4 linked regions of the Homo sapiens genome follow. The protein of the gene in region 1 interacts with the protein of each later gene in a biochemical or structural test. Each region holds a gene or a part of one and is shown on either strand. Other genes may lie near its edges.

Region 1 (4,844 bases):
ACAGAACGTGCTCACAAAGAGGAGGCAGGAAGGTTGGATCCCTGATGAGCCTTGGAACGGAGGTGGGGAAAAGCAAGGATGTGTGGAAACAGCAAGAAGTGGGAGAGAGAGAGAGAGGCGGAGGGGAGAAAACCGTCACGGAGGCCAAGCGGCAGGAGCTCAGCTGAAGAAATGAGATTGGTGGTGGGTTTTCCCTATATCGCAGGCTCTGACTGCCAATCTGCTGCTCCTCCAAGGCCTCGGTGGCTGTGGCATGAAACATCCTGAGGAGCTTGTAAAGTGGACACTGTGCCCCTCACGTTTGGCCCATTTTTCAGGTGGAGCCTTTTGCCAGCTTGACCGAGGCCGTGCGGAGCTCAGTTCCCCGACTGCTCATCAACCGGGACTTGGTGGGGCCCTTGGCTTGGCATCCTCGCAGCAGGGACGTGGCCCAGCTGGGGGACGTGGTTCACGGCGTGGAAAGCCTAGTGGAGCTTCTGGGCTGGACAGAAGAGATGCGGGACCTTGTGCAGCGGGAAACTGGGAAGGTACAGACTGCTGAGGAGGACCATCCAAGGGGCTGCCCTTCTCACTGCTCTAGGGTATGGTCCACCTGATATGGAGCCCCGTTGGTTAACACAGTAACAGTAATAGCTGATGATGCTGTGAATCCTGCACCAGGCACTACCTGGACCTGACTGGGTGTTACTTTCAATACCTCCATTTAGAGATGAGGAAACAGATGCTAACAGGCCAAGCAGGGACACGGTCCAGACACTCAGGGCTGATGAGTCTGTATTCTTAACAGACTATAGGCGTTACCTTCACTCCCTAAAATAAAGCAGCCAACAGTGTCCCTCTAAGGCCTGGTATGTGATTCTAAGATGATACGGGTTAAAGAACTTTGAGAAGCTAAAGTTCTCTGCATCTATGTGGGATGAAGGCTACATGAGTGATGCTTTTCGGAAGTAATTGGTATGAGAGCCATTGATCAATTATAATCCGCTGAGGAAAGCCAAAGAGCCTTGATGCTTTCTAAGAGATTTCAAACCGCCTATAAACAAGTGAAGTTACAGAAAATGCAGTTTCCCATAAGAATCATGTAGCATGTGTAGCCTTGATATTAAGGGTTTTCAATGGGAGGTGGTAGCATTAAGCATTTAAAGTCCAGTGTCATGATTACAGGCAGGTGTAACACTGTCCAAAGGGGATTTCACCAGTGTATTAGTCTGTTCTCTGGCTGCTCATAAAGGCATACCTGAGACTGGGTAATTTATAAAGGAAAGAGGTTTAATGGACTCACAGTTCCATATGGCTGTGGGGGCCTCACAATCATAGTGGAAGGCAAAGCAGGAGCAAAGTACTGTCTTACAAGGTGGCAGGCAAGAGGACGTGTGCGGGGGAACTGCCCTTTATAAAACTATCAGATCTTGTGAGACTTATTCACTATCAGAAGAAGAGTGTGGGAAAGACCCGCCCCCATGATTCAGTTACTTCCACTTGGCCCCACCCTTGACACATGGGGATGATTACAATTCAAGGTGAGATTTGGGTGGGGACACAGCCAAACCATATCAACTACAATATATCACAGTTGATGCTCCTCTTGCCTTCCAAGGCAGATGTCTTAGGAAATCCTGATCCTTTTTCCTTGTCCACAGCTGTGGCTGCCTCATGGCTCAGGGCCATGGGGTCAGCACTCTCCTCACCTCCACCAGTCCAAGACCTCCAACCTCTGGTTGCAGGCTGATTTTTTACCAATCATGGTCACTTCATTATGGAGGCAGGGAACCCAGCTAACAATGAGGCTTAAACGCTGAGAGGCGAGTGCCTCCTGGCCAGCTCACAAGGCAGCGGAGATCTTAGATCAGCCCAGCAGGCTTTTTTGAGGGATCCTTTTCCTGCTCCAACTTCATATTTTCTTTTTTTTGTAATGGAGTTTCACTCTTGTTGCCCAAGCTGGAGTGCAATGGCACGATTTTGGCTCACTGCAGCCCTGCCTCCTGGGTTCAAGTGATTCTCCTGCCTCAGCCTCCTGAGCAGCTGGGATTACAGGCATGTGCCACCATGCCTGGCTAATTTCTGTACTTTTATTAGAGATGGGATTTCATCATGTTAGTCAGGCTGGTCTCAAACTCCTGACCTCGGGTGATCCACCTGCCTCAGCCTCCCAAAGTGCTGGGATTATAGGCATGAGCCAGCAGGCCCGGCCCAACTTCCTGTTTTCATAGAAAAGCAGATTGTAACTCTGGTAGCTCCTGTGGAGTTTTGGAAGTGGCTTAATAGGATTTGAACTGTATAATCTAGTTTCAGAGAAATGTATGTAAAATGGGTTATGATTTCATTTTCTGTTTTTTACAGCATTACTATCCAAGGGGTTACTTTTCCAAATAGTGAATGCTTTTAAGCACATGAGCATCAGTACATATTGATTTGGGTACTTTAAGACCCATAGAATGAGGCTCTCCATTTAGCCACCCTGTTCTGCCCAGGCCTGCTGGGATCCTCTTAGCCCAGCACAGCAGCAGCAGTATTTGCAGAAAGCAGCTTGTTTTGTGAAATATTTTGCATGTCTGCAGCTAGAGCTGTTTGAACAGAGATCTGCTGGCCTGCCTGGGTGTGTAAACAGATAGCTGATACCCTCTGTCTTCTGTATTCCAGCTTGATGGACCAGACAAATAGGATGATGGCTGCCCCCACACAATAAATGGTAACATAGGAGACATCCACATCCCAATTCTGACAAGACCTCATGCCTGAAGACAGCTTGGGCAGGTGAAACCAGAATATGTGAACTGAGTGGACACCCGAGGCTGCCACTGGAATGTCTTCTCAGGCCATGAGCTGCAGTGACTGGTAGGGCTGTGTTTACAGTCAGGGCCACCCCGTCACATATACAAAGGAGCTGCCTGCCTGTTTGCTGTGTTGAACTCTTCACTCTGCTGAAGCTCCTAATGGAAAAAGCTTTCTTCTGACTGTGACCCTCTTGAACTGAATCAGACCAACTGGAATCCCAGACCGAGTCTGCTTTCTGTGCCTAGTTGAACGGCAAGCTCGGCATCTGTTGGTTACAAGATCCAGACTTGGGCCGAGCGGTCCCCAGCCCTCTTCATGTTCCGAAGTGTAGTCTTGAGGCCCTGGTGCCGCACTTCTAGCATGTTGGTCTCCTTTAGTGGGGCTATTTTTAATGAGAGAAAATCTGTTCTTTCCAGCATGAAATACATTTAGTCTCCTCAAAGGGACTGCAGGTGTTGACATGAGTTGGAAAGGGAACCCTGGGATACGTGGCGTCCCCTCTATTGGAACAGTCTGAGGACTGAAGGCATTTGTCCCTGGATTTATTGGAGACGGCCCAGCTCCTCCCTCTGAAGGTGGTCACATTCTGTTGACTCTCCATACTCAGCCTCTCCTCCAGAAACAGATCTGTTCCAGAACATTCCAGCACTTTCTATCTGGCCTCCTTGTCCCCACACTACGCCCCCCCACCCTCGCCAGGGCTTCCTCTAGTGACACTGTTAGAGCTAATCTCTGAGACAGGGAAGGCATTACTCACTTAAAACCCAGGCTGAGTCCTGGCCACCTGCTGGATTGTGACATAGGAGGTGGAATCCACTGAACTGCTACTTCTGCACAGGCTCCTTCTCCTGGGGCTGTACCCAGGCCCAGCCCTGATGGCTCACCCTGTCAGGCACCAGCTGCTCCCTCCTGGGCTCTCACCCACCTGCACATCCTCCTTCCTAGCATCACATTACCTGCGTGTTTCCCCAGACAAAAGCACTTCCCATTCTTGAACCTTGCCTACCCTGGGCTGAGCTGACGGCAATAGATTTAATGACAGTGACTCCCAGGAAGGGGGTCCTGTGACTTTGCGCCTTAATAAGAACAAAAGGTGGAATTGGTGACCTAGGAAAACTGTTGAATTCTAAAAAGAATGAAGTTAGTTTCTAACCCTAGTTAATGTTCCTTTTTTATTTTTTGAGTCTTGCCCTGTCACTCAGGGTGGAGTGCGGTGTTATGATCTCAGCTCACTGCAACTTCCGCCTCCCGGGTTTAAGCGATTCTCCTGGGTAGCTGGGATTACAGGTGTGTCCCACCACACCTAGCACATGGGCATATTTGTAATAGAGACAAGGTTTTGCTATGTTGGCCAGGCTGGTCTCGAACTCCTGGCTTCAAGTGATCCACCCACCTCGGCCTCCCAAAGTGCTGGGATTACAGGCATGAGCCACTGTGCCTGGCCCCTTTATTTGATAATTTACACATACATTTTTGTCCAAAACTCTTCTTTATTTCAAGATGATGTTTCTGTGGCTATGTGTGGTATGTGGTATAAATCTCAATCTATGGTCACACGAGGGGCATTTTCCTTGTTGTAAGTGTAGTCTAAACCAGTAGGAAGGAGGTTTAATTGCCAAAACCAGCGAGAACTCGGGCACTGTGGATACTACAGTGGGCAGCTGAACGAGGACCAAGGAGAATGTCTAAGAGGCCTCCAGCCCTGCGCTCAGTGAAGACAGGACAGGAACAACAGAGCATACATACCTTGGAAGGGTGTGTTCTGATATACTCGTATGGAAAGTTCTGACAGGTTTTCTCCCTGGGAAGTGCAGCACATACCCCAACACACTGGCTCTGCCAGTGTGCCAATCCCAGATGGTGCTTGCTTTGTGTGCACCCACACCCAAACCCCTGCCCTCCCATATGCTCTTCTGTGTGCCCAGGTAGGCCCTGCCCTCAGGCAGCAGCTTCTGAACACATTCCTCTTGGCGCAGACAAAAGAAAGTACTTCGTCTGTGGAATTCGAGGCTGAGCCTGAGTTCTAGCACAAGAAGACCGTTGCAGTCCAGAGATGAGAAACTGGACCA
Region 2 (7,031 bases), on another chromosome or scaffold:
CAAAAAGGATCACTCTGGCTGCTGTGTTTAGAACAGAAAGGTGGATGCAGGAAGCGCAGTTTTCTTTCATAGAAGCAATCTCTAAATAACTATTCAACAAGTATGAAACTCTTACATATGAATACATAGAATAATCCCACAAGCTCAGGATAATGTAACAATTGCCAAGAAGGAAATAAATGCACAATGAAGGAATCCTAAAAAACAGTCAGATGAGTTCAATGATTGCCTTCCTAGGCTTTCCACCTCTGATGGATCTTCTACACCAATTCTGGTGATATTCTCTCCTCCTACTCCCATTTAAAGGTGCCAGTCTTTACTGAGCATGTCCTTTGTACCAGGCCCTGTATAAGTGGGTTTGAGGACACAAGGGAGAAAAACACCGAGGAGTGTGACAAACACCTGCTGCCCTGGGCAGTCTTTCTAAACCAGCATGTCTTTCCCCCAGTTAGAATCCTTCAGTGGTACACCCCAGGTATTTAGGCTAAAGTCCACAATGCTTAGTACAAAGTTAAACGCTTTCAGCCAGGTCTCAACTAGTTTTCCTAGGTTTGTTATCTAGAAATGTGTTCCAGCCATTTGGAGCTACCTGTAATTCTTAGAATGAGTCATTCTGTGCCGTATCTCAATGCTTTTGCACATCCTGTGCTTGCCTCCAACTACTATTCATTTAAAATCAAATGGAAGCCCCAGTTCCCACAGAAGGCCTCCCGTGACATCAACAAGGACAGGCCACTTATGTACCATAATTTCATTATTTACTTACTCATCTCTCTAGACCCCCAGGAGCTCTTGAGAAACAAAAACGCTTTTTTTTTTTTTTTTAACAATTTTTGTATTTTCAGGAACTAGCATAAAATTGATACATTCATCCACTCCCATATTTATAAAATATGTACTATACACTGAGGTCTATTCTAGGTTTTAAGGACACAATGATAAATAAGGCACAATCCTGACCCTTATTCTGCTCAGAGTTTGAGAGATATAGACAAACAGGAAACTTCAATAACCTATCCTGATGGGCTACAGTAGGATTCGGGGTGCTGTGCAGCTTATGGGAATGGCGCAGGGGTTAGGGAAGCCTTTCTGGAGGAAGTGGCCTCTCTTGAAGAATGAGTAGGAGATACACAGTTGTTCAATGAATGCCTGTTCCCCTAGCCTCACGCCCTTCAGGGGACAAAATTAAAGGACTGACTGAGGCCCTGAAAGCTAGGGGTAGAAAGCTGAAGGCAGATCACCCCTGCTGATCTGGGGAGGCAGCTGGAGGTTGTGAGGAGGCTCCTCGACGTGGCAGCTGTTCCATCACTGCCACAAAGTTCCTCCAAAGTCAACATGGGCAGGGGACAAAGGTTCTCAAACCAGGCTCTTGCCCTGCTCCCCAAATTGAAAACAAAGTTGAATGACAGGCTTTTCTCAAGTTTTTCTCCCATTAATCCAACTCTCTCAGACCTCTGCTGCCTCTTACATATCTAGATCAGAATCTAGTAATTGATTGGGCATAACTATATTTAGCTATAAGTATAGTCATCCACTCACGTATTTATTAACCATGTACTATATACACTGAGGTCTGTTCTAGGTTTTGGGCCACAACAATAAGTAAGGTACAATCCTGACCCTTATTCTACTCTGAGTTTGAGAGATACAGACAAACAATTAAACAGGAAATTTCAATAAACTATCCTGATGGGCTACAGCAGGATTCAGGGTGCTGTGCAGCACATGGGAATGGTGCAGAGGTTAAGGAAGCCTTCCTGGAGGAAGTGGCCTCTATGGAAGAGTAAGCTTAACTATACTTCAATAACATACTTAGCTATTTTGAATCTAATATGTTGAGATTTTACTATAATCTGTAAAAATCATACTGACACCATACGCTGGGCCTCCTCAACACATTTGAGGACTACTGGACTGAGAAAGCAGCACAGTTTCTATCAGAATCCTGGCTGTGTTGCCCCAAGTCTGTGAACTTGGGCAAGTTACTTAATCTTTCTGGCCTCAGTTTCTTTACCTGCAGGAAAGGAAATTGACAGATTTATCTTGCAAAATTGTTCAGTGAAGAGTAAATGAGGTACAAGAAAAGATTAAATAATGCAGCAGGGAGTAAAACTTTCTTTTCTATATTCCTCTCCTTTCCCAGTTAAGTCTGGGTATTTTCTTCATGCAATGACCTTTTCAGTGCTGCTCTGAATTTTCACCCATGGGCAGACACTGGACAAGGTCTGCATGGTATGACTTACCAAAACCCCGTATCTGCCCTTTATTTAAGTTTGGGTCCCCCAGAAGCAGATTCTGAAGCTCTGACTTCAAGTAGTTTATTTGGGAAGTGATGCCAGGAAGCACTAGAAAGAGTGGAGAAGACAGAGGTGGAAGGGAAGAAAGCCAACCTGGAGTAGGCTAATAGGCAGGTTATCCCTATGGGCAATTGGGGTTCAAATCTTCTGGGGACTCCAGTAAACCATCTAGAAACTACCCCAGAGCTGTCTCAACCAAGGGCACGAGTGCTGGGGTATTAATCCATCAATTGCTGTTGGTCACTATTTGGGGACTCCCCAGTATTCCTGCCCAGAGAAAGCCCTCAGGCATGGAATCTCATCTACACGTAGGCAAAAGCTTTGGCATGTAAGGGAATGGGGGGCTTCAAGGGGCTATAGATAGGGCACCAACAGAAATTATGGCTGGGGAAAGGAAATTAGAAAAGCTTGCTATGAAGTACAGGGCAGGAGAAATAAATTAACAAACTTGGTGCTTTCTATTAGGAAGACATAAGAAATCAGGACCAATTAAAAGAGCAGTAGCAGCCAGGTAATTAAAGTGCTAGAGGAAAATCTGGCATAGTGATGAATGCAGAGGTCAGTAGACCTAACCAATGAAGACTGCATGTGAGACTCCAAAGTCTGGAGGACTTTGTGTTGCAACTTCCATCTTTGCCTTCCCAACTCCTCCAGATTTCAGCTTAAATGGCACCTGCTCAAAGAAGCATTCCCACCCAGGATACCACCACAGGCCCCATGCCCAGATTTGCACATCCATTACCTAACAATGCCTGGCACATAACAGGACTCTATAAATATTTGCCAAATGTATTTATTAGCCCTCTTCATTCAAATGGTGAATGTGCTAATTCTTTATTAGTGTGAATGGCTAACCCTTATTAACCAATTAACGACTATGTGCACAGCACTGTTGGCATATGGAGGGGATGAGGCTGAAGACAAAAACCCAGAGCAGAAGGGAATGTCCTCTATCAGTATAGCTGTAGTCTCTGGGAGATGGGGGCTGGGGCTTCAAGAAAACATGCAACTATGATAAAAGAGACAAGGTCACACAATCAGTAAGTGGCAGAGGGGGAATTTAAACTCAGGTCTGATTTCAAATCATGCCCTTTCCATCCTAGTGGGTTCTAATATTCTATGCTCTCCTCTGTTGTAAGTACAAATTTTGAAAAGGTGAGAATTAAACCCGGACTTGCTATGGAAACAGAAATCAATCAGGGCTAGGGAGTGAGTGGAGGAGGAGAGAGAAAATAAAACAAAGATGCTATCAATGGGTTCACCACCAAATGGAAGGAGCAAGGTCCTAGAAAACACACATACTCAGCTAGCAGCCAAGTACCCAGTGCTCTTACTCAGCTGACCACAGAATGACACTAATCCTAGGGGCCCCGGGTGGGGGTACCACAGCCTGATATGGGCTGCTGTCCCAGCAGATGGGGCAGAAGTTTGTCTTTAATAGCTGCTCTAGCAATAGGCATCCAGGCTGTGATATGCTTAATCTAATTTTCCTTGCCATATTTAATTCTCAAAACATTAGCCATCTGTTTCCTGAATTCATGATGAAACTGCTGCCTGGTCTGTTTGCAGAGAGCGGAAGGAAAAATCCAGAGGTCTTTTCTCCACTTGTCTCTGCTAAATCCAGCAAGGCTGTAGCTGCATACCAGACCCACATTAAAAGACATAATTACTGAGCCCAAGGTCTCCAGTCTTCAATGACATGGACGGCAGTTAAATATACTTCAGGGCCAGGAAAGGGCAAAAACTGGGCCAAACCAGCAAACCTACTACAATCACCCTCACCTACCACTGTTTCCAATTATTTCTCAGGTGCAAACCCAGTTTCCCACTTCTGTAACCTTATCACATCTCATGCTTCCTGAAATTCTCTGGGAAGAGGGCCTTGTTGGAGAGTTTTCTATGCATTCCATCTTTGCAGTGTAGGTAACTCATCTTACTTGACATATTTATTTCTCAGAATATCACTCCACTCATTTATTTCTCAGAACATCACTCCACTCCACTCAGATTCAAGCTGAAAATCCAAAGTAATGCTAATCATAATCAAACTTTTGACTTAAAAAATTGCTGCTCTTTAAGCATAATCAGATTATACTTGCAGAAATGTATACTGAGGACCTGGTACTCATACTTGTTTTTGTGTGTGTGTGCATTTCTTTCAGGGAGTTGGGGGGTGCTCACCTCAGAATTGCTTTTGCTGGCTTGTTTTAAGTAGCAATACCCCATGCTTTCTTTCTGGGGAACTACAAACAGATTGTGCCATCCCAGATGAGTTCTCCTTCCTCTTCCCACAAACCATAAATAATACATTTGAGGCCATGTTGGCTTTGGGTGTTTTTGTTTTTTTGGCTAAGGTGGGCAAAACTGAAAAAAACAAAACACAGCCAAACTTAACAAGGATTCCCCCATGTACCCCTTCAGTCCCACAACCCTTTATTTCTATGAAAGACTTGCTCAACCCTGAGGTGTAGGGGGTGTAATGAAGAAACAACAGAAGCTGGGATTTGGAAAAAATATGGAACAGTGTATAAGCACTATGAGGGCAGGGTCTCTTGCCTGTTATGTTCAGTATTGTAGTCCCAACCTCTAAAACGGTGCTTGAGAAATATTTGCTTAATGGATGAATGAAAGGAAGCTATGGAACAAAGAAAGATGACTGGGAAGATCCCATAAAGGCTCTTCCAGTGCTGAGTTTAGTAACTGTAGACTGAGACTCACATAGATCATGAAATCAATTTAGTGGGTTTGACTAGCATATATGTACATATAAAGAATGAACTAGAACAGAATAGAAAATATCTTAGTAAGGGGAAATACAGTTTTGTAAAACTGCTGTTTCAGATACATACCCAGGATTGCAATGTAAAATATGTTTCTTACTGGTTAAAAAAAAAAAGTTGGAAAAAATGCTTGCCTAAGGGTATTAAGACACAGATTCCCAGGCTCACTCAGGCCAGGACTCCCCGGATCAGAATCTCAGGAATTTTACACTTTGAACAAGTTCCTGTGGGGATTCTGATATACAGTAAATTTTAGTATCTCCAGTCTGACAACCACTTTAGGGTCTGGAATTTCAAGCATTTAAGAGTCATGGAAGAGCTGATCAACAAATTAGTTCACCTCCATTTTCATGGCTATCACCTGTTTAAAGGGTGGGGTGGGGGACAAGCATTTCATGACCATAAATAAAATGCAATTGTCCCCTTTCCGCCTGTTACTGACCTCATTGCTGGGCCATTTCCTCCCCAACTCTTTCCATACACTCACTCCAAGGGCCAATCAGACCTGTTCTAGTACAGGTTGGCCACAGAGCTTTCATCTTCCCAGATAAACGGATGAAGAGGATTTAGTTGCCAGATGTACGGCTGGACTGGGGCCTGCAGGGAGAAACTGCTTAGCAAAGAACCAACAAAAACTTGCAGCCCAGAACCAGTCATCAGATATCTATGTACAGCAGGTGTGGCCTGTTCTACCCTAATCCTGGCAAAGCTAGTAGCCACCTGTCCTGACAACTGCAGACAAAACTCCTTGGAATGACAATCCGGCTCCACTGGAGGCCCAGGCTTCCAAAGGCCCATTGGGAATCCTCTATACCAGCTGTCCCTCATCCTGCATCACTGATTTCACCCTTCCCCACTCCACACCAATTAAGCAATCTCTGTTGTAAGTCCACGTACATTGGTTTCCCTCTGTGCCTCTCCTTAGGTAATAAACATAAAAGTCACCATTCTTTCTCTCTCCCTTCAGATATATACTTTTGAAGTCAGCTTTAACCATCAAGACACTGATTACACCATTTTCAGAGCCCTCTCTTTCCTCAGAATCTCCTTTCTTGCTGAGTGGAAGGAGGAAGATCTTCCACATCCACCTGAATGGGAATCACAGCTCTTATTTTTTATTGTATTTTCTCCTCAACTTGACTTGCAAATTCCTGGGAAATAGCAAAGACTCCGGAAACTTCTGTCTTGTTCCCACAGTGCCTTGCTTAAAAAAAATTCTTTTTCACTTGTGGAAGGGCATATAGCAATCACACTCTATGTCAAAAGCTATCGGCACTGGACAGGTTAATAAAAATCTGTTCATCTTAGCAGGAAGTATCTTTCGCCATATTTGGTTGGTCAAGCACCAGATTGTTAGGGCTACATTCCAGACACAAAGAAGAGCGGTGAACATTAAATTTTGAAGAAAAAAAATTTTATACTAACAGGGTCAGAGTAACAATATTAAAAACAAAAGATAAAAGTCCACTAGCCTCCAAAATTGGTGTCAGGAATTTTGTTGGCTTATGTATTGTTACGTGTCAGTGGCATGCTAAGGGTTTTACGTCATTCTCATTTAATCTTCACGACGACCTGTGAAGTGGGTATTATTACAGCACTCCATTTCACAGATAAAGGAACTAAGGCAAAGAAAGCTCGAATAACTTTCCAAGGCTGATAAACGCAAGAATGAGGATTCAAACCCAGATCTGACTTCACTACAACCCTCTACTGCTTTTCTAACTAATCCAATTCCTGATGTATATTCCCAGACCATAAATTGGGCAAAGTTCTCTTTCCTAAAGAAAAGGCTGAAAACAAACGTATTTATTTTCTTAATTAAAAGTGGAATGCATCTCGAATCCGCATGTCTTCCTGCGCAGGGGCCATGCTAATCTTCTCTGTATTTCCAGTTTCAGTATATGTGCTGCCAAAGCGAGCAACCAACCAATCAACTAAACAACCAATCTATCAA
Region 3 (7,587 bases), on another chromosome or scaffold:
TTCAAACTGAATACCTGAAAGTCATCCAGAGGTTAAGTGTACATGACTGAGCCAGAAGATGTGCTCAAATGTTGGGCCACATGACAGTGGCTTCCATACTTAAACCATATCTCTTTTTAGGTTTGCGTGCAGAAAGCATATCAACTCATTTTGTGCTTTGAATAAAGGTTTTCTATCATTAAAAATGTAAACTAATGTAATCTTAATGAATTTTTCTTCATAATTTTATGACTGCATTTGCTCTTTCTTTAAAACTTAAGAATCTTACAGAAAAAAACAATGAAAATGTGCCTGTATGGAACGTAAACTGACTCAAAATACTATTTGTGTGGGGGGGAGGGAGGGTTGATAGATGCATAACAGGGTTTGATTGTTTAATTAAGGAATAACAAGTCCTGGAAACCTGCACTTTCCTTAAATTCCTTTGCTTCGACATTTTTTTGCCGGGGGGGGGGAGGGAGGGCAGCGGGGGGAGGAATTTTGCTCTTGTTGCCCAGGCTGAAGTGCAATGGCGTGATCTCAGCTCATCGCAACCTCCGCCTCCCTGGTTCAAGCGATTCTCCTGCCCGGCTAATTCTGTATTTTCAGTAGAGATGGGGTTTCACCATGTTGGTCAGGTTGGTCTCGAACTCCTGACCTCAGGCCATCCACCCGCCTCAGCCTCCCAAAGTGCTGGGATTACAGGCATGAGCCACTGCACCCGGCTTGGTATGACATCTTTTCTACTTTTGTAATTGACTGCAAAATGAATGAAATCTAGTGACAAAAAGCAATGATTGACACAGCAGGTGCTTTTAACAATACTTACGTTCAAACATCAAATTCTCCACTACATTTTTCCTTCAAGGCAAAAATTCTTGAGATTAAAAACAAAAAATGAGAGAGTGAATTTTATTGACTCTATCTTTCAGTTATGCAGAGGCTTAGTACATGGACTGAGATTATATCCTAATGCCCCAACTTCCAACATGCCTTCAAAAGACAAAATTCCTAGGGAAGTTGGAATTTATGAAAACTGTGCTGTAATTAATGAGCGTTCTATCCGCATCGGTACAAGTGATACATTCTCTCCATCAGATCAGATACCCTTGGGAGTCAAAGTACTTTCAAATGCTTTCATAAATAAGTAAGCAATGAAAAACTCTTAATATCCTTCAGATTATCCACTGATTCAACAACAAGAAAACACTCTACATCATAACTTTTGCTGACAAGCTTGTTAAATTAGTGTAGAAGGCTCTTGATCAGGCAATAAGAACAGCATCCAGGTACAACTGTTGGTAAAACAGAGCAGTGTCAAATTTGCAAGTTATTCTTGATCACAATTTTCACGGAAAATTTCCTATTCCATGATCTAGACTCAGCCACGTTGTATGTAGCATCTTCATCCCAGGCAGATTGGGCTGATTTTGCCAATGACTAATAAAGAAAGATGCACTGCAACCAGAAACAGGAAAGAGAGCCGTCCATTCTTACTGATGTGCTTAGCAGAGCCTGTGCCAAGACATTTTTTCCACTCCATCAATAGACCCACGGACCAAATTAATTAGCAAATGCTATTAAGGCACCGACTCCAGAGCCCTTTAGCTTTGCAAAGCTTCTGATGTAAATGAAAAAGAAAAGCTATGCTAATCATTTAATGTGTCGGAACCCCAGTTTATGTAATCCGATTGCATTAAACACTCTACATAAAGACCATCCGCGATTTTTCAACATTTTTCTGGAAATGCCTAGCCATTTCACAGCTCCTGCTATCTTTTTACATAAATGAAGAAAGATACGAAGCACCACACGCCAGTATTTTTTTGATTAGTTTCCTTTGTCGCTACCTGAAAAACTGCACTCACAAAGACATCAAAGCTATCTCAATCCAAGACGCGTTTGTCCCTTTTTCCAATCTATCTCATCCCTTAATACCACGCTGATTCATCTAAAACCATCCATACACAAAAATCTGTCACCATCCTTCCTGGGTACCCAACGCAGGTAGTTAAGTGAATACCTACCAATTCGTCTGGGCCCGGGACACACACACATTCTCCTGTCATCACAACACGGAGCCGACAACATCCACAACCCGCGCGGGCAGCAGCAGCGACAGCAGCACCGGCCCATTGAAAGCAAGGCAGAGATGCTCATTAGAGGAGGCGGCGGCGGGGAGGCGGGAGCGGAGGAGGGGCGAGGTCTCGCTCCAGCCCGGTGAATGGGCTGGGAGGTGGGGGGGAAGAGGATGGAGGAGGGATAAAGGGGTGGAGAGAACAAGGAAGCCAACCAAACCAACCCACCCCGCCGGGGAGGCAAAGCCACAGCCCAAGGCAGCGGGGCCCAGGCGCGAGCAGGGGTGCGCCCCGAGGGCCAGCCCCTCCATCCAGCCGGGGCGCGAAGCCCATGGACTGCAGCCCCGCCCGCTGCCCGCCCCGCCCTGCCCGGCCCGGCCCCGCCCCAGGGGTGCCCGTTTCAGTCCAGACGAACAGGGGCCGGCCGGTGTCAGGCTGCCAGCGGGGCCAGCCCTGACCCGGGGTGCGTCAGGGAGACCCTCAGGCAGTGCCGCAGCCCTACAGCCTCCCTGGAGCTCACTCTGCCGCCGGCCCCGCGGCGCCCTTCGTGCTGACAGCTGGAGCGCAGGGGCCGGAAGACGCTAGGGCTGCACGGCGCCCCCGCCCCCGCCCCCAGCCCCCCGACGGCCCCCAGCGCCGCCACGCCCGCCCCACAGCCCGGACGCCCGGCGCGCACCTGGCGCTCCAGGGCTCGTCCAGCCCTCCGCACGCCCGCGGCCGCCGATCCGCGAGCACGCCCGGCGCCCCCTCACAACTTTGGACGGGTGGAGGATCCCGGACGGGGCGGCTCGTGGCAGGGAGTAGGGAATACGAACCGGGCACGGCAGGAGACCAAACGATTCTTCCCGACGAGGAGGGGGCGACAACGACGCCACCGCTCGGCGCTCTTTCCACGCAGCCCCGTGCAGCTCCCGGAGCGCGAGCCCTCACCCCCGGCCTGCCCACTCTGCTCCCCTACCGTGCGGGGCCGCCACCCTGCCCCGCCCGCACGTTCGGGCCGGAGTGCTTCCCGCCTGCCGATTGGCTGCGCAGTGACGAGTGGGAGGGGAGGCGGAGAGGGCTGCGGCCGGGGGTGGGGCGGGGGCGGAAGAGGAGCGCGCTCCCCGCCAGCTTTGTGACGTCACGGGGGTCAGACAATCCCTTCCATTCGGCGCGAGCCGCCCATTGGTTCCCCGGGCCCGCCTCACGTGACCCCCCCCCCCCCGCCCCCAGCGAGTGGAAGGTGTGGCTGCGCGGCGCTAGGGAGCGGTGGTCTGTGGAGCTCGGCGGTGTTGGCTGAGCAGGCTGCGGGGTCGGGAGAGGGGAGGCGCCTGGGCCGGCTCCAATGTCTTCGCGTGCATGGGGCCCGAGGAACGGGCTGCTCCCCTGTCGTGCAGGCTTCCTAGAATCTCTGGCACCTCTGCGGGGATGCGGTGGTGTGGGTGGCCGGCCCAGCGGCCAAGCCTCCCCTGCGCCTCGCGGTTGGGTGCGGGCTTCCCAGGGTAGGCTGCGGGAGCGGCTCCCAGCCTCACGGGAACCTCAACTCCCTGCGGCTCACCCCAGCCTGCGGTACAAGGCGTAGCAAAGAACCTCGAGAGTAGCTGTTGCTTCGTTCGTTTGATACGTTGCAGATTTTAGGAGCATTAACGCCCATCATGTTTTCTATCGCCCCAGGGAGAGGAAGCAGGTGTAGACAGCAGCAAGAGGGAGTTGTGATGAGGGAATTATCTCTGTAGCGTAGATGTGTGCTCACGTTCTCTGAGGAGTTTTGAAATCAGTATTGTTTCCGTTGCCCTGAATGGTTACAAGGAGAGAACACTGGACTTGGAGTCAGAAAACTTTCATCCAAGTCATTCCCTGCTCTAAGTCCCATTTCTGTTCCATGAGATTGTTTCCACCTCAGATGAGATTAGACTTAAGGTGGCATTGGTATTGTCTGTGGTAAAACAAGATATCTTCGAGGGCTCTTCAGTGACTTACATCCATACATCCCTTTTATGGGATAGTGGCTTCTGAAAGCTTCCTTGGCAGTGGCAGATAGAGCATTGCACTTATCTTCCCTAGTGTTCACCAATAAGTTGACTTTGATTTATTACACATAACTTCTTACTAGCCAGTCAGGTTCACAAAATGATGTGGAGTGAATTTCTTTTTATGTAATAAAAAACGTTATATACCCAAACTGGTCCTTTATAACTCCTGGATCTTTCAAGTTGCTGTATTCTCTGTTCTCTAAATAAACTAGAGGAGACTGTTTTTGCCCATCCCCAGGTTACCCATGGAACTTTTGTGGCTAGTCTGTCTGGCCTTCATCCCAGTTTTTACAGGTCCATCTGCCTCCCTTCATCCTCTCCTTTTTGCTTCTCAAATGGGCTTCCCATAAATTGCAAATATTCTCCACTACTCTTCCTGTCATTTAATTTAAGTATCTGGTTTCTTCTTCATAGATGCATAGGATGGTGTAGCCTAGTGATTAAGAGTGCAGCTGGAGCCAAGCTGGCTGGGTTCCATTCCCAGCTCTGCAGCTTTCTGTGTGGTCATGGGCAACTCTGCATGCCTCATTCTCTCACATATAAGATAAAAATGTAAAAAGTAATAGCAGGGCTGTATTAAGAGAGTTGACATATATAGCTTGCTAAGAAAGTACATAGCATGTAGTGTTATATAAGTGTTAGCTATTCTTGATATTATCGACATGTCCAGGTCAGTGTTTTAGATTAAGAACTCCTAGCAAGTAGGAGACCCAGGCCCCCAAGTGCATTATATTCTATTGTTAGGTACTAATAAGTTATTAATAGAATGGAGAATCTTTGAACCTTAGAATATCAGTTTAAATTCATTTATATAGAGGATCTCTGCCTCTTAACCCTTACTTTGTGGACATAGAGACCCACTTAACTGAAGCTGTGAGTGGAATTTTAAGAGTTTCTGCTTTATGACCCAGAAATGAAGTACATACTAGACTTCTCTGTTGTCTTATCAACTTTTTCCTGGCCAGGCTTGGTGGGCTCCTGCCTGTAATCCCAGCACTTTGGGAGGCCGGGGCGGAAGAATTGCTTGAGCCCAGAGACCAGCCTGAGCAACATAGACCTCATCTCTACAAAGAATCTAAAAAGCAATTAGCTGGGTGTGGTGGCGCCTGCCTATAGTCTCTGCTACTCAGGAGGCTTGCCTGATCCCAGGAAGCTGAGGCTGCTGTAAGCAGTGATGCATCACTGCACTCCAGCCTAGGCGAGTAAGCAAGTTCCCGTCTCAAAAAAAACAAAAAGCTTTTTTTTTTAATGGTTGTGAAATAGAGTAGTAAGAATCCAACATCCAGGCCAGGTGCGGTGGCTCACACCTGTAATCCCAGCACTTTGGGAGGCCAAGACAGGTGGATTGCTTGAGGACAGGAGTTTGAGACCAGCCTGGCCAACATGGTGAAACCCTATCTCTACTAAAAATACAAAAAATTAGCCGGGTGTGGTGGTAGGCATCTGTAATCCCAGCTACTTGGGAGGCTGAGGCAGGAGAATTGCTTGAATCTGGGAGGTGGAGGTTGCAGTGAGCTGAGATTGCAGCACTGCACTCCAGCCTGGGCAACAGAGTGAGACTCCATCTCCAAAAAAAAAACAGAGTCCAACATCCATATCAAATGACCTCTTCAAAGCTGTTACCTTAGTAGCAACCCTTATTCCACACTGACATTGCCATTATTCAGAGCACTTTTAAAACTCCCTTTTCAAATTGTTTTCAGATCTGCACAGGAAACTCCAACTTGTTTTACTATAACCAACACTTTGGTTTTATACCAGAATAGTATTGATTCCCATCTTATTCTTCTTAGTTCTGAATGACCTGGATATTTCTAAAAATAACACCCACTCTCAAAAAAACTGGTATTTGCCACCACTAAATATAGTCAAAAGAATTTTGACATAAGTATTGAATGCCAAGGTGTTTTTGAAATCAGAATAAAGCCTTCCTAAAGTGATAGCTTTGAAATAATCTCATTTACAGGTATAAGTTTTGTCCTCTGGTTGTAAAGTTGTATGGTTCAGTGAGAGGTATATTATAAATAAACTACCCTTCTGCAGAGGTACCAACTGCTGGTACAACTGGAGGAGATTCTTTAGTATCTCAACCTTGATTCTCCTCTGGCCTGGCTTTGTTCCTGTTTCTAGATGGAGCTCCATTTAGCCACCCACTGGGCTTGCTTCAAAAGTGCTGTTTGTTATCACATGGCCAACTGGCCAGGGCCAGAACAGGTCCTTGGGTTTACTGCGTTGACCCCAGACTGTTTTAGCCACCAGAGCACTTGTTGATACTTCAACATTGGAAAGTGTTGGAAAGCAGCACTGAAACAACCCAGGAACGTTGTCGAGAAGGTAGGGAAGGAGAGAGGAAGGGGCTTCAAAAATAGTATGGTACTAAGAAAGCAATGTGCAAAATCACCTGTTTACACAAATGCTTTCTGTGATAAACAAAAATGCAATGACATTTCCTGAATATGAACCTTAACATTTAGTCATCCATTTGCCCTAGGATGGATTTGAAAATGAGCAATGCTTGATCAGATTGGCCTGATGTTCTTGGGGGCAGGTGATAAGACCCTTAGGGGTATTGGAGGTTAGCTTTGACAACATGGAGATGATCCAGCAGTCTCAGTGGTGCCAGCCAAGAAGCTTAAAATAAACCTGCATGTGGGTCTGAGATGCCCTCACCCTGATGGTTACTGATTTACTGTGGCCTTTGCCAAAATCAGCAGTCACAGGGGAAAGAGGCTGGTTTACCATACTCCTCTAGCACCTGTTTCCCTACAGGTCTTGGCTAGGAAATCAGCAAGAAATTGCCAAGTAACTAAAGAATGGCTACCTGTTTTATTACCATGTCAGTGTCGGGAGTTCCTTCTTTGAAATTAAGTTGTTTGGAGTTAGCAGTGAGATTGACGAATCATCTATACAAAAGAAACAACACGTACTGTGGTTCATCTCCTTTGGACCAGAGACTGTTCTAGATGCTTTCACATTTGTCTGATTTTATATTTGGAAAGGAATCCATTCTCATCAGAATTCATGAGACAATAGAATGTTCAAGGGGGGAAAAGCTTTATTCTCTTACAAAATGAGAGACCAAAGGCTCTTGGCTGGCAGGCAGTAAGTTTCTGTGTACTAATTGAACATGACAGAGAATACAAAAAGTAGGTGTCTGGGGTTGCGTAATGATAGAATTCAAGTGCTTTACCAAGAGTATTGCATACCTGTGGACCTGAGATTGGCACATACTTCAAAAATTCCTGTTAGTTAGGCTATCTTCAAATACTAAAGGTGACATGTATGGGCAAGAGGGGAGAGATGAAAGGGGAGGTAGGTGTTGGTGTTAGTATCTGGCCATCAGGCAATTTGGCAAGATTAATTTTTTATTCAGTATAATTCTGTAGGTGGATTCCCCAAAGCACAGAGGGTATGAGGTGGAGGACAGGCTTCCGGGGAACTGAGACATTGGGGTGTGTCTAGAGCACTTCCTACAATAGGTGCCAGTCATGGCTGCCCCGAAGCAGGTCCTGCCAATC
Region 4 (7,031 bases), on another chromosome or scaffold:
TCCTCCTGCCTCAGCCTCCAAGTAGCTGGGACTACTACAGGCACTCACCACCATTCCTGGCTAATTTTTAGTTTAGTTTTGTAGAAAGTAAGACTAAATACACTGGATCATTCAGAATGTCAGAAAGTAATGTTTTCCTCAGTTTATTTTTTCTTAATAGCACACACCATGTTATTGGTTTGTGTTTTGTTAGTGCTTGTAACTAGAGTGCAACTTAATTAACAATTTGCTCCTCCTCATGAGGTTCATGGCAGTATAGACTTAAATTCTAGTCCCATGTTTGTCATTTATTAGCTGTGTGCTAAGACTTGGTTTTCCTATCAGCAGAATTGCTATGTATATCTAGGGTATGTTAGGGTTCAAACCAGGAACCCTCTTGTAAGTGAAGGTGGGGGGAGCTATTGGTAATTTTTTGTCAGAATTGGCATACTAATTTATTACTACATTACTAATGTATCATTACCTCATCTATTTCAGTGTTTATGGGCCAAGTGAATATACTTCACTAAAAGCAGTTTTACTGTAAATCACTAACAAGTATTAATTAAGGTTATGAAGAGGACTTACCAGCACCTTGCATTGGATTTTTTTTGAAGTAACAGTTCTCAAACAAGAGAGCTAGCACTATTCCCAATTGAGCAAAATGGGACTATTAAGACTGATGTAAAACAAAAATATTTTGTTAGTTCATAATACGTACTAAATTGAGGGGATTTCAGATAATTGACACCTGCAGAGGCATAGTCACAACAGATTCCTATCATTTAAGAACTGTACTTCTTGTTGAAAATAAGGGAGTGTTAGCCATTTTGGTCCTTTTTTGCATCATCTAATGGACATGAGAAGTGTCGTGGACCCTATTGGAAACAGCATGATTGGGTTAGGAATTTGCATAGGATGAGTTCAGTGGTGAGACTTTTGAAACTACACACATCTACCTTGTTTTAGTCCTATTTTCAAAATTTTGGCATTGTGAGATTTTATTTACTGTGTGAACCTAAAGTTACTGTTTAAGTACATGCCACGCAACTCTGTGTTATTAAGAAGCACTGTCTCAGAAGCTGTGTGTAAATTTAATATTAAGGCACTAAAGACCAAGCATAGGTACATGCCTGTAGTCCCAGCTACATGGGAAGCTGAGGTGGGAGGATTGCTTGAGCCCAGGAGTTCAAGACCACCTTGGGCAACATAGTGAGACCTTGTCTACAAAAATAAAAGAAGCTGAGCATGGTGGCTTGAGCCTGTGGTCTCAGCTACTCCCTTGAGCCCAGGATGTCAGGGCTGCAGTGAGCCATGATCTGTGCTACTGCACTCTAGCCTGGGCAGCAGAACAAGACCCTGTCTCAAAAAAAAAAAAAATTTTTTTTTTTAAGTTAAGGCATTAAAATATTTGTCACAAATCTCAAGATTTCTACTTGACATAGAAGCCATGAGAGAAATAAACATTGTAATGACATATATCGTTGAACTAGGTGTGATGTTAGCTGTTGATGCTGTAATTGCTGAACTTAAAAAGCAGTCTAAACCTGTGACCACCCCTGAAGAAATTGCACAGGTAAGGACTTAACATGTTACACGTTTTTTAAAAAAAATTTAATGGCATGTGTGATTTTTTTTTTCCCTTGATCACACCAATGTCAGAATAACAATACTACCCAATCATCAATATTAGAATCATTGTTTCTTACTGCTAAAACCTTTGAAAAGAATTATGACCATAATGGTTGTCATTTAGTTCTACATGTGGTTGTCATTTTAGTTCTACATGGCTGTAAAATGGATTCATATGATTGTGAAAATGTTCTTAGCCATTGTCAAAGGTGCATAAGTTTTGTCAGTTTGTAATGAAGTCAGCATTTTTAAACTTTTTGTTACAAGAATAGTTTTATGTATCATATTCTTCAAAACAATGTAGTCAAATAATGAATCGGAAAAGAGCAAAGAACCAGTACTTCATGAAAACTACCATAACGTAAATTCCCCTTCTCTCCCCTGGATGGAAGTATCAATTTGGAAGTTACTAGGAAAAGGTAAGGGAACTGACTGAGGACACTAGGCTTACCTTTTAATTTCGAAGAGTAACTGGATTATTTCAGGTTGCTACGATTTCTGCAAACGGAGACAAAGAAATTGGCAATATCATCTCTGATGCAATGAAAAAAGTTGGAAGAAAGGGTGTCATCACAGTAAAGGCAAGTGTGTTTGTATTTTTAAAGATAATTTTGAGTTATCTTATGATCAAAAGTTTGAGTTATCTGATGATCAAAACTGAATTTTTCAAACAGAAAAATTCTGTTTTAAAAACTGCTTTTTTTATTCCTTCATATGTAGTCTCAGCACATGTATAGAATAAAGTACTTACTGTGTTTTATGTGAATTAGCCTTTGCTGCATGAAATGAATCCATCCTAACTTAAATGATTATTCAAATAAGCACTTTTGGGATTTTTTGCAGAAGTGTAATTGGATGTCCTGGGCTGTTTCATACTCTACCCTGCATCTCTTATGGCCAGAGGGGTCTGTTTTTATTAATCTGGCCTGTAATTCCATGTTTTGTGTTCAATGAAATCCATATACCTAATTCTTTGACTTTTCATAGGATGGAAAAACACTGAATGATGAATTAGAAATTATTGAAGGCATGAAGTTTGATCGAGGCTATATTTCTCCATACTTTATTAATACATCAAAAGGTAAGAACAAATCAATAACTGAATTATTATTATTTTTATTATTTTAGACAGAGTCTCATTCTCTGTTGCCCCGGCTGGAGTGCAGTGGCATGATGTGGTGGCGCGTTGCTCACTGCAACCTCCGCCTTCCGGGTTCAAGTGATTCTCTTGCCTCAGTCTCCCAAGTAGCTGGGATTACAGTCACACGCCACCATGCCAGGCTGATTTTTGTATTTTTAGTAGAGATGGGGTTTCACCATGTTGGCCAGGCTGGTCTCTTAACTCCTGACCTCAGGTGATCCACCCACCTTGGCCTCCCAAAGTGCTGGGATTATAGGTATGAGGCTCTGTGCCTGGCCAATTTTTGAATTTTTTAATAGAGACAAGGTTTAGCCATGTTGGCCAGGCTGGTTTTGAATTCCTGGCCTCAAGTCATCTGCCTGCTTTGGCCTCCTGAAGTTTTTAAAATATACTTTCTAATATGTGTCAAACTATAGGTATTAGTTGGTGTCATCCTCTAAAAAATAAATGTATATATTCCAAAAGTTAATGCATATGAGAAATGAAGGAGGAAAACCAACTCACTGGTGAATTTTAAAGTGTATTGGAACCTTGGTTTCGCTTTTCATTTAAATGTATTGCAGTCATTTTTTGTATATTTTTGAAATCTTCATTATTTTTACAGGTCAGAAATGTGAATTCCAGGATGCCTATGTTCTGTTGAGTGAAAAGAAAATTTCTAGTATCCAGTCCATTGTACCTGCTCTTGAAATTGCCAATGCTCACCGTAAGCCTTTGGTCATAATCGCTGAAGATGTTGATGGAGAAGCTCTAAGTACACTCGTCTTGAATAGGTAATAAGCAGTGGTATTTGTTGATTTATATTTCTCGGTGAAAGACAGAATTATTTGTATTGCTGTTTGCAGTTTCCATCATGTGTACCTCCACATTTGATCCAGTTGGGTTTGTATCTAGAATTGTAATTGTGTAAATCAGGTGTGCTCTAATGTATCCTTATGGTTGTGTTTTTGAAGGAACCCCAAAGTCTTTACTATTTTGATCAGCTTTCTCATAGAATAGACTAATTTAGCACATGGGTACCTTTCTGTATTTTGCAAGTGTTTACAGTTGTTTTGAAGGCACATGACTGAATCTTGTATTTTTTTTTTTTGAGACAGAGTCTCACTCCCTGGCCCAGGCTGGAGTGCAGTGGCATAATCTTGGCTCACTGCAATCTCCATCTCCTAGGTTCAAACAGTTCTGCCTCAGCCTCCCAAGCAGCTGGGACTACAGGTGCGTGCCACCACACCTGACTAATTTTTGTATTTTTAGTAGAGACAGGGTTTCACCATATTGGCCAGGCTGGTCTCAAACTCCTGACCTCGTGATCCGCCCGCCTCAGCCTCCCAAAGTGCTGGGATTACAGGTGTGAGCCACTGCGCCCGGCCTTGTAATTTTTTTATTTTTTATTTTTATTTTTGGAGACAGAGTCTCTGTCACCCAGGCTGGAGTGCAGTAGTGCAGTGGCTCAATCTCAGCTCAAGCCTCCGGGGTTCAAGTGTCAATCTTGTTTTTTGTTTTGTTTTGTTTTGTTTTTTTAAGGTTTTTCTGGTTAAAAATATGTAAATTTTCAGAATATTATTTTGCATAGAACAGGGAAGTAAACAACTAACTTCCAAATAACTCAGAGCCAGGCATGGTGGCTCACAGCTATAATCCCAGCACTTGGGGAGGCACAGGCGGGTGGATCACCTGAGATCAGGAGTTCCAGACCAGCCTGGCCAACATAGTGAAACCCCGTCTCTACTAAAAATATAAAAATTAGCAGAGCATGGTGGCGTGTGCCTGTAATCCCAGCTACTCAGAGGCTGAGGCAGGAGAATCACTTGAATCTGGGAGGCGGAAGTTGCAGTGATCCGAGATTGTGCTGCTGCACCCCAGCCTGGGCAACAAAGCGAGACTCTGTCTCTAAATAAATAACTCAGATGTAAGTGTATTTCACCATCGAATATTTTTATTTATTTTGAGAGACAGACTCTGTCACCCAGGCTGGCCTGCGGCGGCACGATCATAGCTCACTGCAGCCTTGAACTCTTGGGGTCAAGCAATCCTCCTGCCTCAGCCTCCCAAGTAGCTGGGACTACACACTTGCACAAGCACACTTGGCTGATCTTTTAATTTTTTTGTAGAGACGAGGTCTCAATATGTTGCCTCAATATGTTGCCTAGGCTAGTCTTAAACTGTTGGTGAATCTTAAGTGATTCTCCCACCTCAGCCTCCCAAAGTGCTGGGATTACAGGCATGAGCCACTACCCTTGGCTGTGATCAAGTATTTAGTCTGTTGTTAAATGTTTACTAAATAGTCTGAAGTAGAGAAAATAGCACCCAATCTAAAATAAGGTGAGGTCTAGTCACTTATTTAAATCTACATTTTAAGCTATAGTTTACTATTAGTTTAAACTTTAAGACAGGTAATGTTCATGCTGCAGACAATCTAAGGGCATTATTAAAATGTTTGTTCTTCCTTATCTCAGAATTGAAGTATGTCAGAAGCAAGACTTTTCTTTCCATTTTGTTATAGTAGAAATGCATACATTAACAGGTACGTTTTAGACATTACACGTGCTCATCTGACCCAAAAGCTCTAATGAGCTGCCTTACCCTGGAATGTTTTTCTTAGCTTGGATTTGCTTTTTTGGAGGGATTAAGAAAAGACTTGGCTGGGCGTGGTGACTCATGCCTGTAATCCCAGCAGTTTGGGAAGCCGAGGCGGGTGGATCATGAGGTCAGGAGATGGAGACCATCCTGGCTAATACGGTGAAACCCCGTCTCTACTAAAAATACAAAAAATTAGCTGGGCGTGGTGGCGGGCTGAGGCAGGAGAATGGCGTAAACCCAGGAGGCGGAGGTTGCAGTGAGCCGAGATCTCGCCACTGCACTCCAGCCTGGGCGACAGAGCAAGACTCTGTCTCAAAAAAAAAAAAAAACACACAAAAAAAAGACTTGAGGCCAGAAAAAAACAAGCCTACAGAGTTTTCATTAAGCCATTTTACTGCTAGTTGAAAAGTGGGATATCCAGTTTACATAGCATATAGCTTATTCCTCTGATTTTTATTTGGGTCCTTAATAAAATAGACCAGCTGTCTTGAAGTTTGAACGTTGCTTCTGTTTCACAATCTGCTCTCAAATGGACATTTGATTACACATTCCAAGTATTCATTTACCTGGTAAAAATTTCAGGTGAGCTTAACAATACTGTCAGCTTTTTGTATAACATTTATAAAAGAAGTGAATTCAGAACATTGCTCATTCAAAACTCAGCATTAATATATGGAGATGTTTATTAAATGACCCTCAAATGTAATATTTAGTAATTACTGTTTTTCTACCATTCATAATAGTTATCACTGTATCCTATAACTTACTGTGATGTGATTTTTGCTGCTCGGCCTCCTGAGTAGTGGGGATTACAGGTGCCTGCTACCACATTTGGCTGATTTTTGTTATTTTCAGTAGAGACAGGGTTTCACCATCTTGGCCAGGCTGGTCTCGAACTCCTGACCTCGTGATCCACCTGCCTGGGCCTTGCAAAGTGCCGGGATTACAGGCCTGAGTCACCACGCCCGGCCAGGCCAACAGTTTATTAAGAAGGTAAACGGATATGGACAAGTATAATTAATAGAAAATAGCCTAAACTGTCTCAGATACTTCCTGTCTTAATTTGATCAAAAATTGCTAGGAAGCAAAAAAAAAACAAAAAAACACAAAAACCAAACCAGATTACTTAGGGAGTCCTAAGTAATCTAGTAACAGCTTGAGGGGAATTAAACAGATAGGCATTTTTATTTCATTTAAATCTTACTATCAACTATTCTTAACAGGCTAAAGGTTGGTCTTCAGGTTGTGGCAGTCAAGGCTCCAGGGTTTGGTGACAATAGAAAGAACCAGCTTAAAGATATGGCTATTGCTACTGGTGGTGCAGTAAGTAAAATAAATGTGATAATGGTTTGCTGAATGTTTATACTTGTCTGGAATTTATAGATAGTTTAACATTTCACAATTAGATACTACAACTATCTGTTTCTTTTGGCTCTTTGGAAGGTAGGGGTTGGATTAAATTCCCGTTAATTTGCCACAAGTCTGGCCTAAGAATGAGCTTACTGACTATTCTATATTGACTAAATCTTATTGACTGAATAAGGGGGTTTCCTTTTTTTTGTTTTTTTTGGAGACAGTGTCTTGATCTGTCTTGACTATTCTTGACTTGATCTATATTGACTATTCTTATTGACTTAAATCTGTGGGGTTTCTTTTTTTTTTTGAGACAGGGTGTCTTGATCTGTCACCCAGGCTGGAATGC

What was found.
Region 2: the proteins of SIRT3 (region 1) and SKP2 form a complex in vitro, tested with the Homo sapiens proteins (one study listed by BioGRID).
Region 3: the proteins of SIRT3 (region 1) and PDP1 form a complex in vitro, tested with the Homo sapiens proteins (one study listed by BioGRID).
Region 4: the proteins of SIRT3 (region 1) and HSPD1 form a complex in vitro, tested with the Homo sapiens proteins (one study listed by BioGRID).

The regions. Positions count from the first base shown.
Region 1 is NC_000011.10:214,515-219,358, reverse strand, and holds the end of SIRT3 (NAD-dependent protein deacetylase sirtuin-3, mitochondrial), read left to right. Parts: exon of another isoform or gene 1-317; coding exon 318-527; coding exon of another isoform or gene 528-581; intron 582-2,640; coding exon 2,641-2,661; 3' UTR 2,662-4,329; downstream 4,330-4,844.
Region 2 is NC_000005.10:36,155,087-36,162,117, reverse strand, and holds part of SKP2 (S-phase kinase-associated protein 2), read right to left. Parts: intron 1-7,031. UniProt on the Homo sapiens protein: Substrate recognition component of a SCF (SKP1-CUL1-F-box protein) E3 ubiquitin-protein ligase complex which mediates the ubiquitination and subsequent proteasomal degradation of target proteins involved in cell cycle progression, signal transduction and transcription.
Region 3 is NC_000008.11:93,912,365-93,919,951, reverse strand, and holds the start of PDP1 (pyruvate dehyrogenase phosphatase catalytic subunit 1), read right to left. Parts: upstream 3,030-7,587; 5' UTR 2,873-3,029; exon of another isoform or gene 2,734-2,872; intron 2,617-2,733; exon of another isoform or gene 2,369-2,616; coding exon of another isoform or gene 2,286-2,368; intron 2,042-2,285; coding exon of another isoform or gene 2,007-2,041; intron 857-2,006; exon of another isoform or gene 819-856; coding exon of another isoform or gene 809-818; intron 1-808. UniProt on the Homo sapiens protein: Mitochondrial enzyme that catalyzes the dephosphorylation and concomitant reactivation of the alpha subunit of the E1 component of the pyruvate dehydrogenase complex (PDC), thereby stimulating the conversion of pyruvate into acetyl-CoA.
Region 4 is NC_000002.12:197,489,818-197,496,848, reverse strand, and holds part of HSPD1 (60 kDa heat shock protein, mitochondrial), read left to right. Parts: intron 1-1,472; coding exon 1,473-1,555; intron 1,556-2,096; coding exon 2,097-2,192; intron 2,193-2,598; coding exon 2,599-2,692; intron 2,693-3,356; coding exon 3,357-3,525; intron 3,526-6,552; coding exon 6,553-6,652; intron 6,653-7,031. UniProt on the Homo sapiens protein: Chaperonin implicated in mitochondrial protein import and macromolecular assembly. Together with Hsp10, facilitates the correct folding of imported proteins.